Linked DNA regions of Homo sapiens. The protein of the gene in region 1 purifies or fractionates together with the protein of each later gene. This does not show direct contact. Each region holds a gene or a part of one and is shown on either strand. Other genes may lie near its edges.

The links.
Region 2: the proteins of TNFRSF19 (region 1) and ZNF101 purify together in Homo sapiens (affinity purification with mass spectrometry; 2 studies listed by BioGRID and IntAct, with this or other methods). This does not show direct contact.
Region 3: the proteins of TNFRSF19 (region 1) and TPCN1 purify together in Homo sapiens (affinity purification with mass spectrometry; 2 studies listed by BioGRID and IntAct, with this or other methods). This does not show direct contact.
Region 4: the proteins of TNFRSF19 (region 1) and ZNF444 purify together in Homo sapiens (affinity purification with mass spectrometry; 2 studies listed by BioGRID and IntAct, with this or other methods). This does not show direct contact.
Region 5: the proteins of TNFRSF19 (region 1) and SMR3B purify together in Homo sapiens (affinity purification with mass spectrometry; 2 studies listed by BioGRID and IntAct, with this or other methods). This does not show direct contact.
Region 6: the proteins of TNFRSF19 (region 1) and PIP4K2C purify together in Homo sapiens (affinity purification with mass spectrometry; 2 studies listed by BioGRID and IntAct, with this or other methods). This does not show direct contact.
Region 7: the proteins of TNFRSF19 (region 1) and HASPIN purify together in Homo sapiens (affinity purification with mass spectrometry; 2 studies listed by BioGRID and IntAct, with this or other methods). This does not show direct contact.

The regions. Positions count from the first base shown.
Region 1 is NC_000013.11:23,657,126-23,661,401, reverse strand, and holds part of TNFRSF19 (tumor necrosis factor receptor superfamily member 19 isoform 2 precursor), read right to left. Parts: intron 2,353-4,276; coding exon 2,188-2,352; intron 1,038-2,187; coding exon 912-1,037; intron 1-911. UniProt on the Homo sapiens protein: Can mediate activation of JNK and NF-kappa-B. May promote caspase-independent cell death.
Region 2 is NC_000019.10:19,674,716-19,678,991, reverse strand, and holds part of ZNF101 (zinc finger protein 101), read right to left. Parts: intron 3,810-4,276; exon of another isoform or gene 3,794-3,809; coding exon of another isoform or gene 3,692-3,793; intron 3,589-3,691; exon of another isoform or gene 2,477-3,588; intron 1,129-2,476; coding exon 1,002-1,128; intron 267-1,001; coding exon 206-266; intron 1-205. UniProt on the Homo sapiens protein: May be involved in transcriptional regulation.
Region 3 is NC_000012.12:113,293,928-113,297,014, reverse strand, and holds part of TPCN1 (two pore channel protein 1), read right to left. Parts: intron 1,056-3,087; coding exon 939-1,055; 3' UTR 1-938. UniProt on the Homo sapiens protein: Intracellular channel initially characterized as a non-selective Ca(2+)-permeable channel activated by NAADP (nicotinic acid adenine dinucleotide phosphate), it is also a voltage-gated highly-selective Na(+) channel activated directly by PI(3,5)P2 (phosphatidylinositol 3,5-bisphosphate) that senses pH changes and confers electrical excitability to organelles.
Region 4 is NC_000019.10:56,157,980-56,161,862, reverse strand, and holds the end of ZNF444 (zinc finger protein 444), read right to left. Parts: intron 3,370-3,883; coding exon 3,261-3,369; intron 2,240-3,260; coding exon 1,662-2,239; 3' UTR 970-1,661; downstream 1-969. UniProt on the Homo sapiens protein: Transcriptional regulator. Binds to the 5'-flanking critical region of the SCARF1 promoter.
Region 5 is NC_000004.12:70,385,911-70,388,993, reverse strand, and holds part of SMR3B (submaxillary gland androgen-regulated protein 3B precursor), read right to left. Parts: intron 1-3,083.
Region 6 is NC_000012.12:57,589,514-57,594,393, reverse strand, and holds the start of PIP4K2C (phosphatidylinositol 5-phosphate 4-kinase type-2 gamma), read right to left. Parts: upstream 3,203-4,880; 5' UTR 3,105-3,202; coding exon 2,931-3,104; intron 2,175-2,930; exon of another isoform or gene 2,077-2,174; intron 370-2,076; coding exon 272-369; intron 1-271. UniProt on the Homo sapiens protein: Phosphatidylinositol 5-phosphate 4-kinase with low enzymatic activity. May be a GTP sensor, has higher GTP-dependent kinase activity than ATP-dependent kinase activity. PIP4Ks negatively regulate insulin signaling through a catalytic-independent mechanism.
Region 7 is NC_000017.11:3,721,793-3,726,855, reverse strand, and holds HASPIN (serine/threonine-protein kinase haspin), read right to left. Parts: upstream 2,954-5,063; 5' UTR 2,921-2,953; coding exon 524-2,920; 3' UTR 157-523; downstream 1-156. Other genes in the region: ITGAE (integrin alpha-E isoform 1 precursor), read left to right, coding at 3,112-3,168, 3,473-3,568. UniProt on the Homo sapiens protein: Serine/threonine-protein kinase that phosphorylates histone H3 at 'Thr-3' (H3T3ph) during mitosis.

The DNA.
Region 1 (4,276 bases):
GGAATACTATGCAGCCATAAAAAGGGATGAGATCGTGTCTTTTGTGGGAACATGGATGGAGCTGGAGGCCATTACCTCAGTAAACTAAGGCGGGAACAGAAAACCAAATACCACATGTTCTCACTTATAAGCAAGAGCTAAATGATGAGAACACATGAACACAAAGAAGGGAACAACACACAATGGGGTCTACTTGAGGGTGGAGTGTGGGAGGAGGGAGAGGAGCAGAAAAAGAAACTATTGGGTACTAGGCTTAAATAATTAAATAATCTGTAAAATAAACGTGTAACATCAGTTTACCTATATAACAAACCTGCACATGTACCCCCAAACCTAAAATAAAAGTTTTTAAAAAGTTGGTATTACCTTTGCCCCTATTTGCCCAAGTTAGAGACCAGTTTCCCTTTGAATTACTTTCCTAAACTTTCAATCTGTCAATAGTCCAAGGGGCAATTATGGTTTGTGTAAAACCTTGAAATGGACTTCTCAGCTCTCTCTTCTTTAAGAAATTCTAAAAATAGATATATTTTTATAATAGACATATTTTTAAAATAGGCATATTAGTGTTTGGTTTGAATCAACCAGACAGCAAAGGATATAAAGTCCTACTCTACCAAAGGTTACCGTGATTTTAAATAAACTGACTCAAAACAAGAAAGACAAACATGACCCAAAAGTTGCTGAAAAATTCTAGAATTTTAACGAGATGCTTATTTCCTTTTTAATGCTTAAGAGACTCGAAACACCCAAACCAACAGGAGATGGTGGAGAATAATTTAACAAGATTAGTTTTAACCAGAAGACTCAACACAGCCACCTCGCTGTGAGGTGAATAAACCAGGACCAATTCTTGCTGCTTCAGCTTCTGTGTACCTCCAGTCCTCCTAACGGCACTTCCCTGCTGAACTTACCGCAGGTCTGCACTGAGTCACGGCGGCACTGGCAGCAGGCTCTGTGGGCATATTCGTGGAGCTGAGGTCTGTCAAAACACGACAGCTCAGAGCCGTTGTACTGAATGTCCTGTGACCGCAGAGACCCTAAATGAGGGGTGAGAACTCTGTCAGGGAACACAGTCTCCTCTCTAGTGGACCTGTGCCATTCTAGCTTTTGTATTTTTAAAGAACAAATCAGCTATCCTTCCAATGTTTGATGACTTCTTCTTACATGGAAGCACAAACATGAAATAATTTGTTAAGAAAGTTCAAAATGTAGGGTACTAATGTTGCCATTACTGAGAATGATTTTTATTTTTGCCTAGTGGCGCAGGGACATCACAGCCTTGTAAGTCTCCTTACAAAGCTGTGCAACCTCAGTGAATTCTACAGATGACCCTTAAGCAACACGGGTTTGAACTGCGCAGGTCACTTATACACAGATTTTCTTCAGCCTCTGCCACGCTGAGACACCAAGGCCAACCCTCCTCCTCCTCCTCCTCAGCCCACTCAACATGAAGATGATGAGGATGAAGGCCTTTACAATGATCCGCTTCCACTTAATGAAGAGTAAATCTATTTTGTCTCCCTTATGATTCTCTTAGTAACATTTTCTTTTCTCTAGCTTACTTTAATGTAAGAATACAGGGCATAATACATATAATAGGCCGGTGCAGTGGCTCACATCTGTCATCTCAGCACTTTGGGAGGCCGAGGCAGGCGGATCACGAGGTCAGGAGTTCGAGACCAGCCTGGCCAACATGGTGAAACCCCGTTTCTACTAAAAATACAAAAATTATCCAGGCGTGGTGGCGGGCGCCTGTAGTCCCAGCTACTCCGGAGGCTGAGGCAGGAGAATCACTTGAATCCGGGAGGCAGAGGTTGCCATGAGCTGAAGTCACGCCACTGCCCTCCAGCCTGGGTGACAGAGCCAGACTCTGTCTCCAAAAAAACAAAAAAACAAAGAAACATATAATAAACAAGATGTATTAACCAACTGTTTATCAGTAAGGCTTCCCGTCAACAATAGGCTATTAGTAGTTAAGTTTTTGGGGAGTCAACACTGACGTGTGGATTCTTAACTGCTCTCCTAGCCCTCTGCTGTTCAGGGATCACCTGTGTTTCTTGTGCCCTGCGTTCTTTCACAACTCACTGGTGCTTGTCTCAGCCAAGTCTCTTGTGGAACACTTGCACGACAATAGTAATAAATGCCCTTCCCCTAAATGCTAAGAAATGTAATGAGCTCAAAACTTACAGCTGGGTTTCTTCTCCATAAACTGTCTCTTACAATAGATGACACAGAGGATGAGCAGGGCCAGCAGGACGGTGGCCAGAGCGCTGCAGATAACGGCAGCCAGCGCCGTGTCCCGTGGGCTGGAGGCCGTGGACGCGATCTTCACGAGGTTGACCTTGCTGGCACCTGAAACCACAGGAATGGGGTCAGCATGCTCTGAACAACTGCAGATGCAGTGTTTATGGCGAAGCTGGCAGGCACCCTTACCAGTGGCCTTCCCATGCTGTGAGAAAACTGGCATGAGATATTTAAAGATGGCTCAAGCACCCCCTCCACCCAGAAGATGTCTTTAATGGGACACCTTTACCCGGCACCCCACAATGTGCAGGGTGTCCCTCTCCTCTGTTCCCAGAGCGCTACGGACACACAATCCTCAACACATTGTGTTACTAGAATCTGCCTTCAGCTCCACCAGAGCAGAATTCTTTGTGAGCTGGGGGTCTGTCATCTTTACCTCTGGTTGCCCAGTACTTGGCATGTGGCAGGGAACTAATGTTTTGTACTTAATTGGAATTACACCATATTTTTAAGCAGACTGAATGCATGTATGCTTTTTGGGGCAACTTTAGGGGAAAACAAGGAGTTGGATCATCCAGAACCTTACAGTAGACCCCAGTTTTTGAGACAGTAAACATCTCTGAATGCCTTAGCTGTTAAACTACTGGAAAACATCTAAGTTTTGGAGAAAAGACTAATACTGTTATTACACTATGGAAAGGCCGGCATAGTCATGTGCTAAGAAAGTCAAGAAATAGATCTTATTTTAGAGGGCAGTACTGCTTTGTGGTTCAGGGCAGATTCTGAACCCCATGGCCTGGGTCAACCTCTACCTGTGTGACCTTGAGACACTGACTGGAATTTCAAGTTGCCATCTGTTCAAATGGAGGTAATAATAGTGACTGGCTCATGTGTTATGTAAAGTGTGTGGGACTGGCTGTGCTGTAGAATCATTAGCCACTGTAATGATGATGATAGTAATTACCATTTTAAAACTATCCTGAGGGTACCAGGATAAACAAACTCATTTAAATCAGAGATCTATATCTAGTGCAGTTAAACAGCATATCCTACTTAACTAACCCCAAAATAATGAGAGAAATGGATTTAAAAGGGGCATGAATCTACACAGAGGGGCAGTTACATTTTCTCTTTCCCAAGCAGATGCCCTGAGTGAGCTGAGGGGCCCTCACTCTGCTTCCCCGGCAGGTGCTGCTCACCACAGGAGCCTCCCCTCGACTGAAGATTACTCCAGGTAGAGGTATAATGTGTGCTTCACATGTCATTTCAGGTTGTCTAGGAACCACATTTAAAACGTAAAAGAGAGGCAAGGTGCGGTGGCTCATGCCTGTAATCCCAGCACTTTGGGAGGCTGAATTGAGAGGATCCCTTGAGCCTATGAAGCTGCAGTGAGCTGTGATCGCACCACTGCGCTCCAGCCTGGACGACAGAGCGAGACTCTGTCTCAAGAAAAAAAGAAGAAGAAGAAGAAGAAGAAACAGGTAAAATTAACTTTAGTCTATTTTACTTAGCCAATATATCTTAAATATTGCATTTCAATATGTATTCAATATAAAAATTATTTATGACATATTTTGCGTTCTCTATTTTGTATTAAAATTTTAAAATCCGGTGTGGTTTTAAAGACACAGCTCATCTGAATTCAGACTAGCCACACTTCAAATGCTCAGTAGCCACATGTGGCTAATGGCTATCATAATGGACACTGCAACTCTAGAGATTGAAGGTCTGTGTCTATATTTGTACAAGATGGCACCTAAACACAAGCCAATTTGTCATCTGGTGCCTTTCTCCTTCTCCCTGGCTACACACCCCTCACTCCCAATAAGATCGTATGACACCTGAGACTACAGCCCCAGAGAGAAACACTTGGGTTAATATTACTGAATCATAAAAACAGGATAGCAGGAACTATCATCTTGGAGCATGAGTCTTGGTATTTCCAGTCTCAGTGATTCTAGGCCACACATATAAAAGTCTCTTATTGCCATCTGGGAAGGCACACACACCATATGTTTTGGGCTTAGATGAA
Region 2 (4,276 bases), on another chromosome or scaffold:
TGACATCCATGTCACAGATTCTTAGTACCCTGTCCAGACACTCAACATCTACATTACATTGAAGGATAGATTTTTGGTAGCAATCTTCTAATAATCAGTTAAAAACCTAACATTGTACTTATTTGTCTTGTATTTTTTTAAAAATTTTCCTGACCTACTAAGATTCCCTCAAGAGACACTGCTTCCTCTTGTGAGTGGAGATTACCTTAGCTTAATCCCCAGGTTTTGGTACAGATTCTCAATGTCCTGGTCTTTCCATTGGATTCCTAAAATGTAGACCCAGAGAAATTATTATGAATTATTTAAAATTACAGAAAAATCACTAGGTTCTAAGTTCATTAAACACTGCCACAATGCCTGATTTTTTTTTTTTTTTGGAGACAAAGTCTCACTCTGCCACCCAGGCTGGAGTGCAGTGATGCAATCTCTGCTCACTGCAGCCTCCGCCTCCTGAGTTCTAGTGATTCTCCTGCCTCAGCCTCCCGAGTAGCTGGGATTACAGGTATGCACTACCACACCCAGCTAATTTTGTATTTTTAGTAGAGATGAGGTTTCGCCATGTTGACCAGGCTGGTCTCAAACTCTTGACCTCAGGTGATCCACCTGCCTCAGCCTCCCAAAGTGCTGGGATTACAGGCAGGAGCCATCACACCCAGCAATACTTCTGCATTTCTCAACATTATCTCAACATTATCCCAAAGTGCTGGGATTATAGGCATGAGCTGCCACAATTGCCCACCCCCCACTTTTTTTTTTTTTTTTTAAAGAGACAGGGTCTCATCATGTTGCCCAGGCTGGTCTCAAACTCCTGGACGCAAGCAATCTTCCCACCGTGGCTTCCCAAAGCACTAGGATTACAAGGGTAAGCCACTGTACCTGGCCCACGATGCCCCATTTATTCACCAACGTATTCTCTTTCCACATTCCAAACTGTGCAACCACACTGGTGACCAAAACACACTTGTCTTCTAATTGACTAAGGAAGGAAATGTCCTTCTTACCGACCGAGGCCAGGTTCCTGAAGGTTTCCAGCGTCACATCTCTGTAGAGATTCTTCTGGGAAGGACTCAGCAAAGCCCACTCCTCCTGGGTGAAGTTCACAGCCACATCCTCAAAGGCCACTGAGTCCTGAAACATCCCACAGGTGTGGAGGAGGAGGGGTGAGACTCAGCACTGGGGATCTCTACTCAATACATGAGTGATCCCATGACGCCGGGCTCTCCAAACACTCACTCCATGATTGAGTCATCGGCCTCCTCCTATCTACACGCACTTCCTCCCTCGCAGCAGTTCCAGTGTGAGAACTGACCTACTCAGAGAGCCAGCCACAGAGGAGGACCACCCTCTCTGTGGTGGGTCCAGGGAGTCAGTTGTGCTGCTGCGTTGCCCCAAATGCTCTTTGCAGAGTGAATCTCTAGTACCTGTCACAACAAACTCCCACCACCTGGTGTGCAGACAGCGCTCATTTCAGCAGTCCTGAGTCTGGGTATCCTTAGAAAGGCCTGTTTACCAAGTTCGACCTTTGCTACTATCGGGGTCAACTTAGACTACGAGAGGGATCCCATCAACTTAAGTGACAAAGTGGCTTACTGTGGCTAAACGGTTTATGGTATTGACAAACAGGATGGTACTGACTGAACTGTTTTCCTTCTGAAAGCCTACTCTTTTGTTCCAAACTAGAAGTGGTGCCTAGGGCACTAGCCCCAGAAAAACACTCTGGGCACAGAGTCTTTAATGAGCTTTCCTGGGAGACAATATGTCACACGTGTTGTCACAACTTGTCCCCTGGGGAACTGAGCTCATCCCATGTGGTTATACCAAGAGAGAATATCCTGAAGCTTGCAAGCAGTTTACTCTAGACCAAATTTAATCAAGTAGTAAATAAGATTCATGATCAATATTTAATTGTCCTAATGGAAGAATTTTAAAATTTCTGTCAGGTAATGTCAAAGCAGTATGGAGTAAGTGGAAAGATAACATGTGTTCCTAGAAAAAACTCAATAAGATGTCCCTTCTTCCAAATGATATCCTTACAAAATTTCATAAATACCCAATACAGCTGGGTGTGGTGACTCACACCTGTAATCCCAGCACTTTGGGAGGCCGAGGCAGGTGGATCACTTGAGGACAGGAGTTTGAGACCAGCCTGGCCAACATGGTGAAACCCCATCTCTACTAAAAATACAAAAAATTAGCCAGGCGTGATGGCGCATGCCTGTAGTCCCAGCTATTTGGGAGGCTGAGACAGAAGAATCACTTGAACCCAGGAAGCGGAGATTACAGTCAGCTGAGATCATGCCACTGCACTCCAGCCTGGGCAACAGAGCGAGACGCCGTCTCAAAAAAAAAAAAAAATCCCCAAAACAGACATTTTAGGTAAACAAAAGCTACTTTTCCAAACCTCCCACCACCTGGTGTGCAGGAATTAACATCTAATAATTGTCAAAGCCTTCTGAATAGCAGGTGGATGGCTTACCTAACACCAAAGATTTCCAAACCATCACATTCAGGACAGCATACTATTAGCAGAGAGATAAACAAATAGATCAAGGAAAAAGAAGAGTCTTCAATGGGCCAGTATTCATATGAAAACTTGGTTAATAACAGAGCAGGCATGTAGAGTAGTAGGGTGGACCACTTGAGGTCAGGAGTTAAAGACCAGCCTGGCCTACATAGTGAAAACTGGTCTCTATTAAAAATAGAAAAATTAGCCTGGCATGGTGGGCCTGGGCAACAGAGCAAGACTCCACCTCAAAAAACAAAAAAATTAAAAGTTATAGCCACCTCTAGAAAAATTTTTTAAAAACATTAGCAGGGTATGTTAGCAGGTGTCTGTGGTCCTAGCTACTTGGGAAGTTAAGGCAGGAGGATTGCTTGAGCCCAGGAATTCAAGGTTGCAGTGAGCTAGGATTGTGTTACTGCACTCCAGCCTGGGTGACAGAGTGACACTTTGTCTCCAAATAAATAAATAAATAAAGATTGATATAATATTTTTTGAGATAGGATCTCACTCTGTTGTCCAGACTAGAGTGCAGTGGTACAATCATGGCCCCTGCAGTCTTAACCTCCCAGGCTCAAGTGATCATCCCACCTTGTTCCCTACTACAGGTGGGCACCACCACACCCAGCTAATTTTTGTATTTTTTGTAGAGATAGGCTCTCCCTGTGTTGCCCAGGCTCCTCTCAAACTCCTGGGCTAAAGCGATCTGCCCACCTTCGCCTCTGAAAGTGCTGGGACTACACGCATAAGCCACTGTGCCCGGCCTATTATCTTTAAATGAGGCTAAGTCATAGGTCAATAGAATGATTCCCCTCACCTCACCCCTTACACTCACAGCAACAGCAGCAGAATACATACATACAGCAGAGGACAAAAAACTGTACAACTCAGGCTTAATTTCAGAAGTCCTTTAGAATACTTCAGTAAATTATATAACTGATTACGTGGACAAATGTCTACACATACACAATATACCAAGACTGAGTCATGAAAAAACAAAAAATCTGAACAGAGCTGTAGTAGCAGGAGATTGGCATAGTAATAAAAAAAAAATAGCCAGGCACGGTGGCTCATGCCTGTAATCCCAGCACTTTGGGAGGCCAAGGTGGGTGGATCCCCTTAAGTCAGGAGTTCGAGACAGGCTAGCCAACATGGTGAAACTCCGTCTCTACTAAAAATACAAAAAATTACCTGGGCATGGTGGTGGACGCCGGTAATCCCAGCTACTTGGGAGGCAGAGGCAGGAGAATCCCATGAACCCGGGAGGCGGAGGTTGCAGTGAGCCGAGATCATGCCATTACACTCCAGCCTGGGCAACAAGAGTGAAACTCCATCTCAAAAAAATAAAATAAATTAAGAAAAATAATAAATTGGCTGGGCGCGGTGGCTCATGCCTGTAACCTCAGCACTTTGGGAGGCAGAGGAGGGTGGATCACAAGGTCAGGAAATTGAGACCATCCTGGCTAACACGGTGAAACCCCGTCTCTACTAAAAACGCAAAAAAGTAGGCTGGCATGGAGGCAGGCACCTGTAGTCCCAGCTACTGGGGAGGTTGAGGCAGGACAATGGCATGAACCTGGGAGGCAGAGGTTGCAGTGAGCCGAGATGGCGCCACTGCACTCCATCCTGGGCGACAAAACGAGACTCCATCTCAAAATAATAATAATAATAATTTTAAAAACCTCAACGAATACAAAACCCAGGACACCAAATAGTTTCACTGCTGAAATCCACCAAAAATTTAAAAAAGAATTGCTATCAATCCTCCTCAAACTC
Region 3 (3,087 bases), on another chromosome or scaffold:
CTCTGTGCTGTTCGCTCCTGTTCCTAGTGCACACGTGTGAAGGACCTGGTATCGGCTTTAGCACAATCCTTAGTTAACCAAAACGTTGTTTTGCTTGAACGGGTAAATCGCAAAAAAAGGGATTTGGTCAAGAGCCCATTCCACGAAGTGGTCTGGGTTGCAGACATCGGCCCCACTTCCTGCCTCATGCCCCTTCCTCCGGGTTCTGGGTCCCCAAGGAGGCCACTGTGGAAGAGTTTTCGCCAACAAGGGTTAAGCCAGAGAAGGCTGGGTGGGAGGCTTGCAGAGCCAAGGGAGGAGATTGGTCAGTGTAATCTGTGGCCGCCCGGCACTGGCTAACTGAGCTCTGGCCACATGGGCCCAGTTGCCCCAATTCCGCTTCCATTAGATCCTGGGCACTGGTCCCCGAAGAGGTGTTGCGTGACATTATCACAGACACTGAAATACCACCCTGGAGACCGGGAGTTCTTTCCTTCCTAAGTGGTTCTGTCCCTAAAGCAAAACACAGAAACCTGTGGCATGGGCCGCAGGGAGAGGGGGCGGGCACGCCATCAGGTCGGGGGGATGTGAGCCTGAAGCAGTAGCAGTGACAGCTTTGGACGTGGCCGATGGAGGCCAGCCCACATGAGGGGCAAGCCCCGCAGTCGACTGGATCCAGGTGAGGGGTCTCCTTGTGAAGGGCCTTCTGGAGCCTTCCACAGTAGGAAGAGCTCAGACCTGGTGGCCGCACCCCCACCCCTCACCAAACTGGCTTCTGGAGTTAAGGAAGACAGGGCAAGGTGGTTATAAACCAAGCCCCATCTTGTCTGTCTTTTTTCTTCCTGTATATAAATATGTGCATATACGTGAGTATGTGTACACACACCGCAGTTCCGTACATCGCAGTAGAGTAATACTATTGTGTTATTGCATAGAAGAGACGGCTTTCGGGCGCTGGGCTAGGTAACGGTCTGGGAGCGCTGGCGGCTGCCTGGGGGCTGCTGGGCGGCGGGGGCTGCACTGCTGCTGAGTTGTCGCTGCTGCTCTTGCTCCCTGGCATGCTCCTCATACCACTCCTGGAGAAGAGAGCAGAAGGGGTGCTGAGGGCTGCACCCCACCCCCTGCCCCGCCCACCCCACAAGGTCACACAGCCCACAGCATCCAGGCTGGAAGGGGCAGGGCTGCCAGCCTCACCCAGCTGGTACTGAAACCCCCGTCACAGGCCCAGAAATGCTGGGAATTTTGAATGTGGCCCCAGAGGCAAAAATGACAATGAAATCTTTCCCTAGTGTCTGGAGGTTTGCGCATAACAGCTCTCTAACAGGCCCAGGCAGGAACAACCCTCACCCCTTGTTTGTGAGCATAACCTTTTGTCCTTCACTAAAGGGCCCCCCGAGTGACCCCTTTTGAGCTTGGCAGGAATTGTGTCCCTGTTTCACACCCGAGACACCGAGGCTTAGAGCTGTATTGTGCTGAATACCTCACCTGCCTAAGGCCATGATTATAAACTCTGACATTTTCAGGGACTGAGGTATTCAGGTAATTAAGGAATTAAGTATACCCCACATTTCCTTTTTTTTTTTTTTTTTTTTAGGAGACAGAGATTCACTGTGTGGCACAGGCTGGAGAGCAGTGGCGAGGTACGGCTCACTGCAGCCTCCCACTCCTGGGCTCAAATGATCCTCCCGCCTCAGCCTCCCAAGCAGCTGGAAATACAGGTGTGCACCACCATACCCTACCCTACTTTTTAAAAGACTGAACCATAGACTTTTAGAGCTTCGAGATGGCCTAGTTCTGGCCCCCTTGTTTTACAGAGGGGGAAACTGAGGCCTGGAGCAGATGGACAGGCAGAAGGGCAGAGGCCAAGGGCAGCACACCTCCTTCCAACCACACCTGAATGGGTGCTGCTGCACAGTCATCCCCTTGCACAGACAGGGAGGCATGGAGTGACTGCCCAAGGTCAAACGCTTCTATTATTTCCATGTTTCTGTGACACCAAGTTCAGTGAGCCACTACACATCAGCCCAAAGAACACTGCCTGAGTCTCTTGTGTTCCCGGAGAATGTGTAAGCTGCTTTGGGGACAGCACCCCCCGCTTTTCAGGCATGGACCCTGGTTGTCACTGTTTTAGTGAAACAGAAGGGCTTCAAGCTATTAGAATGCCAGAAAACAGAGCAAAGCCACCATAGCTGGTGTGGGAGAGGCTCCCCGGAGCCCTGGCAACCCTGAGGTGGTTGAGAAGACTCTGCAGGGCTCATGGGCTGGTGGCCCATGGTCTGGAAGGCACCGTGCCAAATGCCAGCCCACACGGTGCTTTGTGAGATATTTTCCTTAGCTGCCAATATGTAAAGATTGGGAGGTCATGCAAAAAAAGAAAAACATCTGATTCTGCCTTTTTTTTTTTTTTTTGAGACAGAGTCTAGCTCTGTCACCCAAGCTGGAGTGCAGTGGCATGATCTTGGCTCACTGCAACCTCTGCCTCCTGGAGTCAAGTAATTCTCCTGACTCAGCCTCTTCAGTAGCTGGGATTACAGGTGCACGGAACCAGGCCTGGCTAAATTTTGTAATTTTAGTAGAGACAGGGTTTCACCATGTTGGCCAGGCTGGTCTCGAGCTCCTGGCATCAAGTGATCCGCCTGCCTTGGCCTCCCAAAGTGCTGGGATTACAGGCATGAGCCACCATGCCTGGCCTGCCTTTTCTTAAATTAGAAGCCAAGGTGGAAGAATTGCTTGAGACCAGGAGTTTGAGACCCCAGCAAGACCTCACTGCTACAAAAATAAGGTAATTAGGGTGTCACAGTGCACACCTGTAGTTCCAGCTGCTTGGGTAGGCTGAGTGGGGAGGATCACTTGAGCCCAGGGGTTGGAGGCTACAGTGAGCTATGATCACGCCACTGGACTCCAGCCCAGGTGACAGAGCGATACCATCTCTAAAACAAAACAAAACAAAAAACACCCAATTATGAAAAATCCCAAGCACTCCCAGCCTGGCCAACATGGTGAAACCCCGTCTCCACTAAATATACAAAAATTAGCCAGGTGTGGTGGCGTGTGCCTGTAATCCCAGCTACTCGGGAGGCTGAGGCAGGAGAATCGCTTGAACCCAGG
Region 4 (3,883 bases), on another chromosome or scaffold:
CTTGAAGGCAGACCTAGACTCCAGTGATGTGCACTGGACCGTCCAGGTGGCTGTTTCCAGATGCCCTCGCAGCCCGGCACAGGCTGTACCTGCCCCAGCCCTTGACACTGAGCCAGAAGCTGAAGCAGAGAGCAAGGCAGTGACCGTGGGGGGGCTTGGACGCAAGGTGGTACCGTGGCGGGCTCAGCCACAAGGCGGCAACCATGGAGGGTTTGACATAGAACCCCTCCCAGGCTCAGGCGCTGGGCACACAGGAACCAAAAGGACCAGGGTGAAGCCAGCCCCAAGACTGGGCGGCAGGGGAGTGGTCAGACCAGCGCTCTCATCCTACGCTTTCCAAAGCCCGGCAACTGCCCTTCATCCACCCGGCAGAGGCTACAGATTTCCTCTCTGGAGAGAAGGAACCGGGGTTGCTCGCTGAGCTGACAAGAGGTGGCATCCTGGAAAGATGCAGCTGGCCAAAGCCTGCCCTCCATACGGAGTCCCCCCCTCGGCCAATGGCTCCAGCTAAAGGTGAGAGAATTCCTTGCGTGGCAGAATGGGCCACCCAAGACCTACCAACACTGACACTCAGGACCCCAGTCAAACAGAGTGGCCTTAGCAAGGGAGGTGGGTGCCATTATCATCACTTGCGGATGTGGAACTCATGCCCAGAGGGTATGACCAACCTGTAGGTTCCCAGCCAGGAAGCTGAAGGGCTCAGATGCGAACCTGACTCAGTGTGGCACTCGGCAGGTCCCTTCCAGGAGCCTCATCCCTGCCTCCGTAGGATGGAGGTGGGGACAGCCCTCCTGAGGACACATTTCCTGCACTGCCTCCCACAGCTGTGCCCAGACTCCCAGAGCCTCTCTCATGCCAAGAGAGTCTGTGGTGGGAGCCAAGACAGCTGACCCCAGAAGCCCCGGGCACCCCAGACGCTCGGCCCTGGGAGGGTGGCTGTGCCGGACAGACTCCAGACAGAGCTCAGACTCCGGGTCTACACACAGTGACTTTATTACTCTATGGATGCTGGTGAACTGCCCTCCCCAACCAGCTTCACGGGGGCAGGCATCTCTGTCCATCCCATGCCTTTGGGTCACAGGGGGCAGCAAGACCAAGAAGACCACAGCCAGGCCCTGGGTTCAGCTTCAGAGCCATCACCCGCTGCCTCCCCCAACCCCCAATCTCCTGAGGGAGGAGAATTCCTAGGGACAAGACCCAGACCCCTTTCCTTCAGCCTCTGCTTCACCAAGGGGGCCTGGCCTGCGCCCGAGCTCCTCCTGGCCTGCCCCTCAGGGGTCCCAGGTCCTCACCTCTGCTCTTCAGGCAGGAAAAGGGCAGGGAGAGAGGAATGGAGGAGGGAGAGGGAGGCTGGGCCGCAGGAGAGAGAAGAGGGGGGAAGGAGGAGACATTAGGGAGAGGCCCCTTCACACAGAGAGAGAGGCCGAGAAATCAGGGAGAAGGGGGGGGCTGAGGTGAGACCTGAGAAGGAAAGTGAAATTTGGGGGAAAAGGAGTTGGAAAGGAATAGGAAGGCGTTGGGAAGTTCAGACAAGGGAGGCGCAGGTGGAGGAGGACGATGGGAGGGAAGGAGGAGAGGAAGAGGCCAAGTGGCGCTGGGAGAGAGCAGGTACCGCCCGGGGGCAGCACCAAGGGCGGGAGATGGCGCTGGCCGGGAGGCGGCTAACCCAAGGGCCAGGGCGGGAAGGGGCCTCCACCATCCGGGCCCGGAGCTACCGCCCCCTGCGCGCTGGCCGCTGCCCGGCCGTGGATGCGCTGGTGGCGCAGCACGTGCTCGCGGCGCCCGAAGCCCTTGCCACACTCCCAGCAGGCAAAGGGCCGCGCTCCCGAGTGCGTCTTGCGGTGGCGCACCAGGTGCTCGCGCCAGTAGAAGGTCTTGCCACACTCGCAGCACGCGTGGGGCTTCTCACGGGCGGGCAGAGGGCGCAGCGCGGGCCCGGGGCTGCCGGGGCTGCCGGGGTGCGTGTCGCGGTGGCGCCGCAGGTGCTCCTTGCGCCGAAAGGCCTTCCCGCACTCAGGGCAGGCGTGCGGCTTCTCGCCCGAGTGGCTCTGCCGGTGGCGCAGCAGGTGAGCTGGTTTCAGGGACGTTTTGCCGCACTCGGGGCAGGACGTGGTGCCCGGGGCCGCTAGGAAGGCGGGCAGGCCAGGCGCCAGCGGGGGGCTGCTGGGCTCCTGCTTGTAGGGGCGCACAGCCTGGGAGTCCCCAGGCGCCGGCCCCTCAGCCCCAGGGGCGGTGCCTGCTGGGAAAAGAAAGAGAGTCAGCATCTGGGTCGGCACGAGGGCGGGGCAAGGACAGCACAGGCTGGGGTGGAGGCAGGGAGGGAACGCTTAAAGGCAGAAACCATTGGGGTGGGAAGAGGGCTGGGCTGTGGGCTTCTTATTCATACCTGTGTCCCGGTACCTAGTAGTGCCTGGCATACAGTCAATGCCCAATACATAATAGATGATGGCTGGCTGGATGATGGATGGGTAGATGAATGCGTGGGTAGATGAAGAATGCGTGGGTGGATGATGGGTGATGAATGGACCGATGATGGATGGATGAATGTACAGATGATGGATGGGTAGATGAAGAATGCGTGGGTGGATGAGGGGTGGATGAATGTCTAGATGATGGATGGGTGGGTGGATAACTAGATGGACGGATGGGTGATGGATGGGTAGATGATGAATGCATGGGTGGATGATGGGTGGATGAATGTACAGATGATGGATGGGTGGGTGGATGACTAGATGGACGGATGGGTGATGGATGGGTAGATGATGAATGCATGGGTGGATGATGGGTGGATGGATGGACGGATGATGGGTGGATGAATGTACAGATGATGGATGGGTGGGTGCATGGGTGGATGAGTAGATGGATGGATGGGTGGGTCATGGATAGATGGGTGATGATGATGGATGACAGAGGGATGGTGGGATTGGTGTGAGGGGGAACATGTGAAGGATGGATGGATGCCTGGGAGAATGATAGAGGGATGGATGGGTGAATGGGTGGGTATATGATAGAGGAATGGATAGGTGGAGGGTGGATGATGGCTAGATGGGTGCATGGATGGATAGATGGATGGATGAACCTCCAACCCCGAGGCCCACCCATACCCCCAATGCCCGCCCCTTGGGTCCGAACCCCGGGGCTCCTCAAGGGCTGGGGTCCAAGTCTGTCCTTGTCCTGGGTCCTGGTGCCAGGATCGTTCACTGAACCCCCTCCCCGGTGCTGGGGGCTGGCGGGGAGAACCAGAGAGGCCAGCAGCTCACCTAAGGGAATCATCCCACTGTCCTCCTTTCCACCTGTGGCCCCAGGGCCCTGCGTCACATCCTGAGGCACCCTCGTTGCTGACGACCCATCGGGGGAGGCTGCTGGCCCCTGAAATGAGAGCACAGTTTTGAACTCAGAAACCTGAGCAAGGGCCTCTATTTCTCCCTCTCCCAACCACCGTCGACCAGCTGTGCAATCCCATCCCTGCTGGGAGGAAGCCACAGTCATGCTGGGCGACACTGAAGCTGCCCCACAGAGAGGCCCCCAGGTGAGGAACCAAGGCCTCCTGCCAACCCCCTGCCAGGGAGCCATCTTGAAGCCACCAACCTTCAGATGACAGCCTGGCCAACACTGCACTGTGACCTCACAGGAGACCCTGGGCCAGGTCCGCGTGCCCAAGCCACTCACAGACTCCGGACCCACAGAGGCTTTCTGAGCTGACAGATGTTACTGTTTACACCCCTGAGTGTGGGGTGACTTGTCAGGAAGCAAGAAATAACTAATACACCTGTCTCAGATCAGCTTCGTCCTGCCCTTTGGATAAAGTGCAAGCTCCTTAACAAAATGCAGAATATATAAGCTACTTTTAACTTGGGAAAAAAGTAAACTAAGTTCAGAAACA
Region 5 (3,083 bases), on another chromosome or scaffold:
GATAGTATTGACTAAAAAAATATATATAATGAGCAAAAATCTTATCCTTTGCCTATAGTCGAATCTGTCATTTAAGTCAATTGTAAGTGGAAATAAATGCCCTTCCAGGATGAGAAAAATGTCTTATTATGTCTAATTCAAGAGTTCAGGGCTGTTCAGACTTTGAACACTAATAAATTGTGAGAGACGTCATGAGCACCTACTTTGTGCAATGAGCTAATGTAGGAGCTGTGGTGGGGATCCAGGGTTACAAACAGATCTTCTATGAATCTACAGGCCAAGGAGTTACAATACAAGGCAGGATAAATATGATCTAAAGGGAAATGAAATGAGTGGAATGAGTCTCTGGGATTTCATGTGAGGGTTTGAGTTCTGCTTCTGGCACGTAGAGGTTGGGTGAGTGTGGAATCCTGTTTGAGTCTCTTTTTTCTCATCAGAAAAATGACGTTAATAAAAGGACCCACCTCCTGTTGTTATTGTCAGATTTTTGTTGTGAAATATTACCTGTAAAATGCTTAGAGTGATGATTGGCTCAAGTATGGTTTACATAGAGCACAATTTTTAGAAATAAAAATAGCTGAGGCTGGGCATGGTGGCTCATGCCTGTAATCCCAGCACTTTGGGAGGCTGAGGCAGGTGGATTGCTTGAGGCCAGCAGTTCAAGGCCAACTTGGACAATGTAGCAAAATTCTGTCTCTATTTTAAAAAATAAAAAAAAAATAGCTGAAAAGTAGTGCAAGGAACAAATACATTAAGGAGTTAAAGCGATCAGTTCTGGATAGGAAAATGATGAAGGATTGTTCTAGTGAGAAGAAGTCATTTGAAAAGAGGCTTAAAGAATATAAAATAAGGAGAGAACATGCCAAACAGAATGAAAATACACAAATGCTCTGGGGTAAGAATGAAGTTCCACTCTACTGATGACAAGAAGTCCAGGTTGCTTGGAGCAGATGGTTTACACAGGACACAAAACTACATTCACTTCTTGTGGTTCTCAGTCCCTTCACCTATTTGTCTGGTATTACCCTTGTTAAATCTAAACTTTAGTATTACGGCAAAGCATCTCTGTCCTGGATTCCTAATTCCAGGTTCTTAACAATGGTAGAGGATGTCACAAGCACTGTACCATCAGAAAGTTAGCGTCCTTCAGTGCTGCCTGAAATCCTTTTTTGAGTGTCTTATCTTAGATTATCTCTTCCCACTTCCCCAGAGGCCTGTAATTTTCCAAGTTGATGCCAGTTTTATCAACATTCTCCACCTCATCCTGAGCTATCATTTACCCCCACCAAACTGGCTTTTCTCCTGCTTCACCAAGATATTTCAGGCAATTAGAAATGAACTTCCCTGATTTACTGGCCACACAACCATGGAGTCATTGATAGCTAGGAATTTTCTGTTTCTTTACAAGTGTCTTCTCAGGGACTTGGCTCTGTCAGTCTTCCCTTTACTTCCTGTAACTATAATATTGGAATTTGTTTTCTGAGGAAAATGAGCCAGTTAAATGGCAGGAATTATAAACTGGATCATTTTCTTCAGAAAACAACTATCATTTATGTTCCACTCACCCTTCTCCCCCACAATCCTATTGGCTTTGCATCTCCCTTCCTGAATTCTAAGTCTAACCACTTCTTATCATATCTCTTACTTCCACTTTAACCTAAGTCATTTGTTTTTACCCAAATTACTGTAATGACACCTTGATTTGACTGCTTGATTCTACTCTTACACTTTCACCTAAAATATACAGAAAGTTTAAATAGATCATTTGCAAAAGAAGTATCAAGTTATATTATTTCCCTGCTTATAAAAGGTTCAGTTTCAACCACCGGTACCCTTGTTGTTGATTTTCTTGTCACCTCTTTCCTTCAAAGCGAAACTTTGAAACTTTGAAAGGGTATTCTAGATTTGCCAACTCCACTTCTCATTTCCCATTTGCTCTTCAACCTGGCTTCTGCCTTTAACATGCCAGTAAAAGTTTTATTAGGATCACTAATACAACAAATGAAAAATACCAAGGCACTTCTGTAGAACTGGCCTCATGTTTGTCTTCTCTAGCTAATGACATTCTGTGGTATTATGGAGGGCATTTGACCCAAGTGCTGCCAAGCCAAAGACTAGTCAGGATGTATGGAAGTTCAGGACTTGATTTTTAATTGTCAAGAAAACAAATCCTTAGTGTGGGAAAATACTCCATTCACTTTTATTGTTGAAACAATTAAAAAATTAGCTGAAAGTGCCCTCGCCTCCTAAAGATATCCTGATGTTGATCTTAATATTAAGTAATGAAAAATCTTCATAGTAAGTATACCCAATCACATTGATTAGCTCCCTTTCCGCAACTGGCTAAAGGTAACGAACTCAGAAAAATGATGAAAATACTATTTTAAGAAGAAACACTACGCTCTCGAAGGACTATAATTGGCACTAATCTCCTACATTACTTTATTTAGGAACAGTCCATCTAAGACACGGATACTTTGAACCTAAATTTATTTGTATTTTAATGGGACTAATAGTAGTTAGACTTGCTTTATTTGTGTGTGTGTGTGTGTACATATACACACACACGTAAAGGACATGCTACCCTTCATATTTCCAACATTCAATAATTATTAATCATCATGAATCTCATATAATTAAGTTGGGGAAAGGTTGATTTCCATTTAAACTGCTTATGTTATCAGAAAACTATCTTTTTCTTTTTTCTTTTTTTTTTTTTTTGAGATAGAGTCTCACTCTGTCACCCAGGCTGGAGTGCAGTGGCACAATCTTGGCTCGCTGCAATGTCCACCTCCCGGGTTCAAGCGATTCTCCTGCCTCAGCCTCTGGAGTAGCTGGAATTACAGGTGCATGCCATCATGCCTAGCTAATTTTTGTAATTTTGGTAGAGACAGCGTTTCACCATGTTGGCCAAGCTGGCCTTGAACCCCTAACCTCAAGTTACCACCTGCCTCAGCCTCCCAAAGTTCTGGGATTGCAGGCGTGAGCCACCGTGCCTGGCCCAGAAAGTTATCTTTTTCAAATTAATCTTATAAAAAAAAATTTATATAATAAAAGCCTGATACTTTGAAATTATAAATGTT
Region 6 (4,880 bases), on another chromosome or scaffold:
TCTCCAAGGTCACAAGCAGAAAAAGAGAGAAAGAGCAGGTAATGGTATCTGTACATATTTACTCTATGGAATTGCCAGGCTAGAGGAGAGATAACACTGATTCATATAAGGATATAGGGAACACCAGAAATTATTCTCATGGTTTCCTTGCACAAAACTAATTTCTGCATTTGGGAAGGATGTTAAATTTTCAACTCACTGAAACTTTTAAAATTATTTATTACTCCTTTCTGGGAAGGTTGACATGAGAATGGCAAGGATCATCACTTACCTGTGGAAAAGGTGATTGTTGACCTTGATCTTGGAGCTGGCCTTAAAGTCATCTGGCAGCAGCATCACCGGGGGAGGCACCTGGCTGAGCTCATTGATCTGATAAGCCAAACCATGAATAGGGAAGCCATGAAGAAGGGTGTGGAGAGCTACCCATACACTGTGTCTGGGCAGCAGTCATGCAAGGGCCACTCAGACCTCATTCCTTTAAAAACACTGGCTATGCATATGCTTGACAGAAGTGAGAGAATGTGTCTAACCCTTCTGCTGCCCAAGAAGGACTACAGTAAGCAACCCTCACACACAGCCCCCAACACGCCCACCCCCATGGAACTTCATGCTCACAACAGTCATTTTATATTAGGCTAACCCTGTAAGCAACTCAGGACTATTTTTAAAGCTGTGAGAAATTCTAGAAAAAAAAAAAAAAAAAAAAAAAAAAAAAAAACTCTGCAAGCTCAAGGCAGCTACATGTTCCATTAGAAAAAGAAAAAAAAAGGCATTTTAAAAATGCACAAGAGTGTTAATGGGATTCTGTGGGGCCAACCACAGCAAAAAGGATAAATGTCCATATCCTGCAAAAGGCATCTCTTTGCAAACAGGACCAGTCTTCCTAGACCACTCTGACCCAGTTGTTTGCAGTAGGCCCCCACCTGTCTAAGGTGTAAGGTAAAGGAAGAGCAGCTGATTTCAGAGCGAATGCAGGCAATCAGAGGATATGAGCTCATTAGGCGTCTGTTCCCTAAAGCCAAACTAATCCACAGCCCAAAGGACACAAGCATCACATGCTCTCCTCGGCCCCCAGGATCTGCAGTCTGCTAATTCAGGGTAGAAAGGGAGCTCTAGTACTTAAAAATCCTGAGCCGTGCTTTCTCCTTGGTGTTGCTACAGTACCTTTCACCTGCCTTTGTTACTGCATGACTCTAATCACTAGTTTATGTAAGTTCTCCCATCTAGATTGTGAGCTCTTCAAGAACAAGGGCTCATTCTAGTCGTCTGCATCTTTCAGGTGTCTAACTAGCACAATGTTTGGCACACAGTGATCCTGACATGTCTATTAATTGAATAAATGAATGCCTTGCCTATCCTTACTAGATCATTCCACAGAGGCTATGAACTGCAGTCTAACCTAAATCACACACACTGCAGTGCAACCAACTCCTCCCGTTCTCAGTAGAAAAGGAGGACAGAACATATCCCTCCAGATTAAAAAAAAAAAAAAAGCCACTTGAGACTCCCAGCCTAAAATTCAGCTATAGCTCCTCCTGCCCCCTCCTCCCCACCTGCTAAGCAAGCTGAATCATCACTAAGACATATGTTCAAGGAATTTCTCCATTCCAAACACTTGAAGTAGATGTGTGTTGGCAGAGGGTGGGGTGCTGGGGCTAAAGTATATATACCTAGTGAAGCTGAGGTAGGTCTTACATGTAACTCCCCCAATCCTTAACAAGGGAAAACCCTCCCTGTTAAGCATCCCACAGGGAATGGATGAATCACCTGGAAGGTACATATGAGAGGCAGCCCTACCTCCATCAGCCTTCCCCATACCAAGTGCCTTCCACTGAATACTCACTAAGAGCTTACCACCCAGAGAGCCACAAATCCAAAAGAGATCCGACTGGCCACAAACAACATTCTTAATTTTTGGTTAAGAAATTCTTTACCACAAATTAAAAATGTGACAAAACGCGTATTCTTCCTCACAACTTCCATCTCCACAGCCTAGCCATGACTATATTCAAGAACGCTGATTTCGAAAATATTCCGTGTCACATTCAAGATAACTGCATTTCTCCCACTCCAGACCTGACGGAAGATGGGCAATGGCTGTGCTTCTTTCAGCTGAGGTATCCTCAGGAAAGGGGATGGAGGTCTCCTTGGCCTCCTCCTGACTCCCAGAGCAGTTTCCTGCTTCAAAAGTTCACCACCATAGTGACCTCAGGAACAGAGCCCCTCAGCCTTCTCTTTGGTCAACAATCGCCACCACCTACACCAAACACGATCGCTCTAGCCAGCGATAAGGATGCAGTTAAGACCAAAGGCATATATACATAAGTCCTGAGAGTGTGCAACTTCTAGCTCAGGGTGGGGTAGCTTCTCTAAAATGCTGTACCTCTGGAAGGGAAAGGAAGGGACAAGCAGGATTAGAAAGCCCAGGAAACCTGGAGCTTCCCCGAGACAAAACCAAGATTCAAAAGCCAAGGACCGGGGCTGGGAAGCAAGGTGGAAAGCAAAGTGAAAGAACCTTTTCATCCATCTACTCCCCTCGGCCCCTCACCCTCCACCTACACTCTCACCAACAACCACCCGAGAAAAAGCCACTCCCCCTAATGTCCTCCCCGCTTGCGCCCGGTCCTGGCCAGTCCGCGTAGCCTGAGGCTGAAGCTAGACATGGCAGGAAGGAGTCAAAGCACAGGGAGCTGGATTTCACGGGGGGAAGGTGGAACTAGAGTGGAGCAGTAAAGAACTGTTGGGGAGAAAAAAGTCCACAGTCAGAAAACCTGCTGGGGGAACACCTGGGGTTGGTGGGCAGGGACCAAGACAACCCGGGGGAGGGGAGTGGCACTGCGTGGGGCTCCGGAGGCTGGAGCCTGGAAACAGGGACGCCTCGGAGCCGAGGGGTTTGGACAGGGCTGCGGGGGTCTAGGGCTGGTTCTCACCGAGTGGGCTACGCCCCACAGGAACACACCCACCAGCGGGTCGGCCGCCCGGAACACCTTCACCTTCTGCTGCACGAAATGCTTCTTCTTGGTCTTGGAGGCGAAGCCGAAACCTGGGCCGGGGCCTGCTGTCGCCGCCGATACCGTGGCTGGTGGGACCGAGGAGGACGCCATAGTCTCCCGCGCAACCGACCAAGTGGAAGCCGGAGCCGGCAGCTATCCAGGCGCCCGACCCCGGAAGCGGCGCTCACCTGCGCTGCTGTCACGTGACCGGAGGCCGGACAGCGGACGCGCGAACAGGGCGAGGCAGGACGGGGCGGGGCGACGCTGGCCCCGCCCCCCGGCGCCTGCCTGCCTGCCCCAATGTCCGCTCAGTGTGTGGGCTCACCTGGCGTGCGGGATCCCTGTAAGCTGACGAAGCAAGCGGCCCGCGAGGCCCCTCGAACTGTCAACTAGGAGACCGTGGTGCGGCCTGGGCTGGCCTGATTGACTCCCAAGGTCTAGGGCTTCTTTGCTGCAAAGTGGCCGCCTTCCGGCTTTGCCCAGTTTCTAATGAGTAACCTCGGACCTGATGCTAATGCGAAAGCATTCTTACCGAATGGGGGTTGGGAAGGGGAGGGTTTTGGAAACCCAAAATTCTTACCAGTGGTCTCAAGCGTCTTGAAATTCATTCATTCATTTAACAAGTATTTATTGTGCACTTAGTTGTACTAGGTCCTGTTCTAGGGGCTGATTTTCCTTTTATTGAAGCAGGGTATAGGACAGTGACTGCCCCGAAGTAGTTGGGAGTCTAATGGCACTGGCTGGCCAATGGAGATCAAGTTTGCAGTATGCAAAGTATGAGCTATCCTAGAACTGTGTATGAAGCAAAGACAATGATACAAAGAAAGGAAGTGTAGCTGGTCAGGGAAGGCTTCAAAGAGGATAGAGACTTTACTGAGTTTGGAAGGGTGGGTGGAGTTCAGGAATAGAGGTTAAAAGGCTGTCTAGACAAAGAGAACAGCATACAAAGACATGGAGACAAGAAAGAACGAAGCCGGGCGCGGTGACTCACGCCTGTAATCCCAGCACTTTGGGAGGCCGAGGCGGGAGGATCACCTGAGGTTGGGAGTTCAAGACCAGCCTGGCCAACATGGTGAAACCTCGTCTCTACAAAAATACAAAAATTAGCCGGGCATTAGCCGGGCGTGGTGGCGTGAGCCTGTAATCCCAGCTACTCAGGAGGCTGAGGCAGGAGAATCACTTGAACCCAGGAGGCGGAGGTAGCAGTGAGCCGAGATCACGCCAAGCAGAGATCACGCCAAGCAGAGATCACGCCACTGCACTCCAGCCTGGGTGACAGAGTGAGACTCCATCTCAAAAAAAAAAAAAAAAAAGCCGGGCATGTTGGCAGGTGCCTGTAGTCCCAGCTACTTGAGAGGCTGAGGCAGGAGAATCGCTTGAACCCAGGAGGCAGAGGTTGCAGTGAGCCCAGATCATGCCATTGCACTCCAGCCTGGGCGACAGAGCAAGACTCTGTCTCAAAAAAAAAAAAAAAAAAAAAAAGCCAGATGCGGTAGCTCACGCCTATAATCCCAGCACTTTGCGGGGCCGAGTCGGGAGGATCACCTGAGGTCAGGAGTTGTGGGCAAAGGATTACCCAGGTGCCAAGGCAAGAGACTGAAGGCACAAACTGTTGCAGTATAATAAAGAAAATAGTTAGAATAAAGAGTAGTTACAATACAAATTAGATATAGAGATGATCATGGACAATTATCAATCATCAGTATAAACATTATAAATCATTAGCTTTTAATATTACTCTTTGTGGCATTACTAATATAACCTAGGAATAACCGGCAGGTATAGGGTCAGGTGCTGAAGGGACATTGTGAGAAGTGACCTAGAAGGCAAGAAGTGAGCCCTCTGTCACGCCCGCATAAGGGCCATTTGAGGGCTCCCTGGTCAAGC
Region 7 (5,063 bases), on another chromosome or scaffold:
TACTCGGGAGGCTGAGGTAGGAGAATTGCTTGAACCCGGGAGGCGGAGGTTGCAGTGAGCTGAGATCGCACCACTGCACTCTAGCCTGGGTGACAGAGCAAGACTCTGTCTCAATAAAATTAAAAAAAAAAAAAAGAGGGTTTATAAATATAAACGTTTGTTTTCACATGTAGTTTATTTATTTAAAAAAATAGAGACAGGGGTCTTGCTATGTTGACCAGGCTAGATATGAACTCTTGGGCTCAAGCGATCCTCCTGCCTCAGCCTCCCGAGTAGCTGGGACTACAGGCGCACGCCACTGTGCCCGGCTAGTTTACTTCTTTCAGAACATTTGTTATCAGCAAATTTAAACATTTCAACAAATATTTCAGTTTCCATTTGGAAACAAAATTCTTGTTTGAAAAGCTGACTGGAAACCTGTGAGAATGGGAGTTCCACCCTCCTGTGGGGATGGAGGTTGAAACAGCACCAGAGGCTTCAAGACCAGTCTCCTCTCATTTCGGGGCAGTAAGATACATTTAGCTTACTTAAACAGACTGTGCTGGCAGAGCAAGTCAGTGGCAGAGCTGAAGTTCAGCATTGTCCTGTGGAACTCCTGGATTTTTCTCTTAATTTGCTTCATGGCAGGAGTGTTACATTTAGTCTTGAAGGTCATTTGTTTCAGCATCTTGTCTGTCAGGTAATGTAACCAGAGCACATTACTATAAGGGTGATATTCACCCCAGCGGTTGTTATTCTCCTTCTTCATGAGCCTGTAGATGTCAAACTGGTAGTCACCGTCACCGGTAAACAGGTCCTCATCCATGGAAACGTCACAGAAAACCACAATCCCATCCCGTTCCAAGCGCGACAGGGTGTAGTCAATGATGCTCACTTGCAACCCACAGCTGGGGATAGTGCTGCTCTTCCCATTGAGGGTGTAGTGGAGTTTTTTGAGGCTGGTTTTCTTTAAGAGCACGTTCCCCCAGTGTAAGTCTCGGTGCTCAAAGCGCAGTGATGCCTCTGCCACTGCGAGGGAGGCTGTGAGCTGGTGTAGAATGCTCTTTGCAGTAGCCAAGGAAGACAACTTGGTTCGCATTTGCTCTAAGTCAATCCCTCCAAACTCAAATTCCAGCACAATGAAGAGCTGGTCGTCTTTAAAAAAATCAGGCCGGTCATTTGCAGAGCCTTTGGTTGAATTATAGTGATCCCAGGCTTTGAGGAGCAAGGGAGGGTAAGATCCCTGGACACAGTGCACTGAGTTCAGCCCGATAAAGCCTTCTGTGCGGTTGCACACTTCACCGGATAAGAGGCTCAACTCTTTGGAGATGATGATCTCTGGCAGGATTTCCTCAAAGGTTTTCTGATGGGATCCATTGACTAAATCTGGTCCTTCAATAGCAATGATTTTTATGGCTACGGGTGTGTGATCAGCAATTGTTTGAAACACTTCGCCAAACACCCCTTCCCCAATCTTCTCACAGCGTTGCAGTTTTTCTGTGGGAAGGCAATGGCTAAAGGGGACAGGACCCTTCTGACTGCATTCCCCATAAACCTTTTCAGCATCAGATGCCTTTTTGTTTGAAATACTTAGAGTGTTTAAGGGGCTTAGCAAATACATAGAGGAGGAGTGCCAAGAGGACGGAGCACCACTTGTTCTGTTCATGACAGGCCGGTTTGAACATTCTGATAGGAGGGATCCAGAGAGAGAAGTGGCAGTGGTATAGATGCTGCAGACCTCTGACACATCAGTCACAATTTTCTTCTTGTGGAAACTGAAGGAAGCCCTGGTTTTGGTCCAAAAGCAGACATTCTGTAAAGGAGTCAGGTCCTGGGTGGGGAACGAATCTTTTCCCAGCTTTTGGCCCTTTTTAAAGCGGTGGGAATGGAGGAGAGAGGTTTCCGTTGCCTCCTGATGTTTGCTCTTCCGGCTTGATCTAGTTCTCTCCAGCCTGTCTATTCCCCTTGGCACAATGCGGCCCTTGGGAACACTGGCCTCCTGATGCTCTCTCCGGACGGCCTCTTGAAGCCCTCTCTCTTGACAAGAGTCCTGGCCTGTGGCCCTCCTCTTGCCTGTGCTTGACAGACCTGGACCCTCTGGTCCATTTCCCACCACCAGTTTCCTTTTACAGCAGGACTCTCTCATATTCTTCCCATCTGCCCGAAACTCAGAATCCTCAGGGGTTCCTGAGTTCATAAGGCCAAAGAGAACTGACCTGAGGCTGGCGCGGGTTTGGTGGACCATCCTGGTGTCCTTGGCTCCTCCTGTCGCTTCCTCCTGGGAGCAGGGGAGAGATGCTCGGTCCAGGGAGACTTCTGGGAGGTGGAGGCCGCTCGGGACGGCTGAGGCTGCAACCAGACAGGCGGAGGTGCCGATCGAGATGACACTGTCCCTTGGCGTTGGGGACCCGGGGCAGGGCGAGGCCAGAGAGCTGAACAGGGAGGCACTGATGCCCAGCTCGTCGCCGTCCCTGGGCTGGCCGCACACGCTGAGGTCCGGGCTGAGGCGGCCGGAGTCGCGGCTGGGGAAGGGCGGAAGTCGGAGCGGGCCGCAGGGTGTGCTGCACTTCTGCGGGGGCCGAGCTCGCAGCCCCAGGCGTCTTGGGGTCACGGTTAGGCTTGGGCGAGCTCGCAGCTTCCAGCGCTTTGGGGTCACGGTCAGGCTGGGCCGGTCCTTGGGCACTCGGCCGCCGGGACGCCTCCGCCGCCGCCTCACCGGGCTGCCGGGGAAGTCGGGGTCGTCGGGATCGTCAGGATCGTCGGACTGCGAGGGGTCGCCGATGCTGGCGTCGCTGCTGCCGCTGCTGTTGAAGAAACGCCTCCGGTCCTGCGGCGGGAACCACTGCGCGGCTTCCCGGCCCGGCCGCCGCTGTCTCCTGCCGTCCGCAGCCCCATATGTGCGGAAAAGCCGGCTCCCAGGTCCCGGGAGCGAAGCCGCCATGGCCGGCACCCGCCAAGAGGTTCAAACGCAAACATCGCGAGACTTCCGTGCGACGCGGACGCGCCCGCCTGCCGCGGGGTCCTAGCTCCCGGCCCTGCGCATGCGCACCTCGCCAGGGCCGGGGCCGGGACGGGACGGAAAACTGGCGGCTTGGTTTGTTCAGCGCGTCGCGGTCATGGCTCTCGTTTCAGGCCTCCACGGTGTGCACCTGGAGTCAGGAGCGCGCTTGTGCGTACAGTTCGGTTCAGGTAAGCGCGGCCGTCCCGAGAGGCCAGGGGAGGGCGGAGGGCCTGAAGCGGGTAACGAGAGGCCAGGAGACTGTTTTTCCTGGGTTACCCCTGCCGGCCAGTGCCGGGGGCTGCCAGGCCCTCCCTAGCTTCGTCCCTGGGTCTCAATTGCTCCCGCTGGAGCTTCGCTTGGGCCGAGGTGAGCGCTGAAATTGCTCACACCCTCTATTCTGGGACCTTACGATGCTCTGTGTCCGAAGTGTTAAAAAGATTTCAGACTTTCCGCACGGAAAGGAATTGTGTTCACTAGACCTCGCTTTTCCAGCATGTGGAAGAATGGCATTCAGTGAGCTGTGTCATCGCTTCAGATAAAGAAAATGTCACCGTGGCTGCAGAGATCTCCTGGGATCACTCTGAGGAGGTGTTTGAGACTGAAATGCTCCAGATTTGATTATCCAGTTGCTCACGGGCATCGCCCCTAGAAGAGATAATAGCATCTTTGCATAACATGTCCATGTCCAAAATAGATCTTTTGGTGCAAAAAACCAACCCTCTGTCCCAACCCGTTCCTTAGCTACCCTCAGGAGGGAGATATACTCCAGTTACAGTACAAGGAACTCGAGGGATTACCTGTGACTCCTCTTTCCTACATCCCCACGTCTATTCCAGCAGCAAGCCCTGCCATTTCAGGGCCAAAATATATCCTAAACCCATTCACTTCTCTCCATTTCCACTGCCGTTGTAATTCAAGCTACCCTTTCTTGCCAGGGCTGTTGCAATAACCTTCGGCCTGCCTTTCTTGCCTCTGCTTTTCCCACATTCTTTACAAATAATTCCCACGTAACAGCTATCCGTCTTCTAAGAGCAGACATTAGATTGTGCCATTCCCCTGCTTATTAAAAATAACAAACAAACAAAACTGATGCTTGAGCACACTTAGACTAAAATCCATACTTTTTTCATGGCCAGAGCAAGGCAGTACTTGATCTGGTCTCTGCTTAATTCTTCAACTTCATCTCCTAGTACTCGCCTTTCTCTCCCACTGCCCCTTTTATAATCGGGTTATTCTGTCCTATTCTTCTAGCTCGCCAGTACAGCATTATTCTGGCCACAAGACTTTGTACTTGCTGTTCCTTTGCTTGACACTGCTCTTCCTCTAGGTCCTGACGTAGGTGGTTTCTTCTTAAATTTAGCTCAGGTGTTCTTTTCTTTTTTTTTTTTTTTTTTTTAGATGGAGTCTTGCTCTGTCACCCGGGCTGGAGTGCAGTGGCACGATCTCTACTCACTGCAACCTCCGCCTCCCGGGTTCAAGTGATTCTCCTGCCTCAGCCTCCCGAGTAGCTGGGATTACAGGCGCCGGCGACCACGCCCAGCTAATTTTTGTATTTTTAGTAGAGAGGGGGTTTCACCATGTTGGCCAGGCTGGTCTCGAACTCCTGACCTCAGGTGATCGCCCGCCTCAGCCTCCCAAAGTGCTGGGATTACAGGCGTGAGCCACCGCACCCGACCTAGGTGTTCTTTTCTTTTCTTTTCTTTCTTTCAAGACGGAGTTTCGCTCTTGTTGTGCAATGGCACGATCTCGGCTCACTGCAACCTCCGCCTCCCGGGTTCAAGCGATTCTCCTGCCTCAGCCTCCCAAGTAGCTGGGATTACAGGTATGCGCCACCATACCCGGCTAATTTTGTATTTTTAGTAGAGATGGGGTTTCTCCATGTTGGTGAGGCTGGTCTTGAACTCCTGACCTCAGGTGATCCGCCCTCCTTGGCCTCCCAAAGTGCTGGGATTACAGGCGTGAGCCACCACGCCCGGCTAATTTTGTATTTTTAGTAGAGATGGGGTTTCATCGTGTTGGTCAGGCTGGTCTTGAACTCCTGACCTCAGATGATCTACCCACCTCAGCCTCCCGAAGTGCTGGG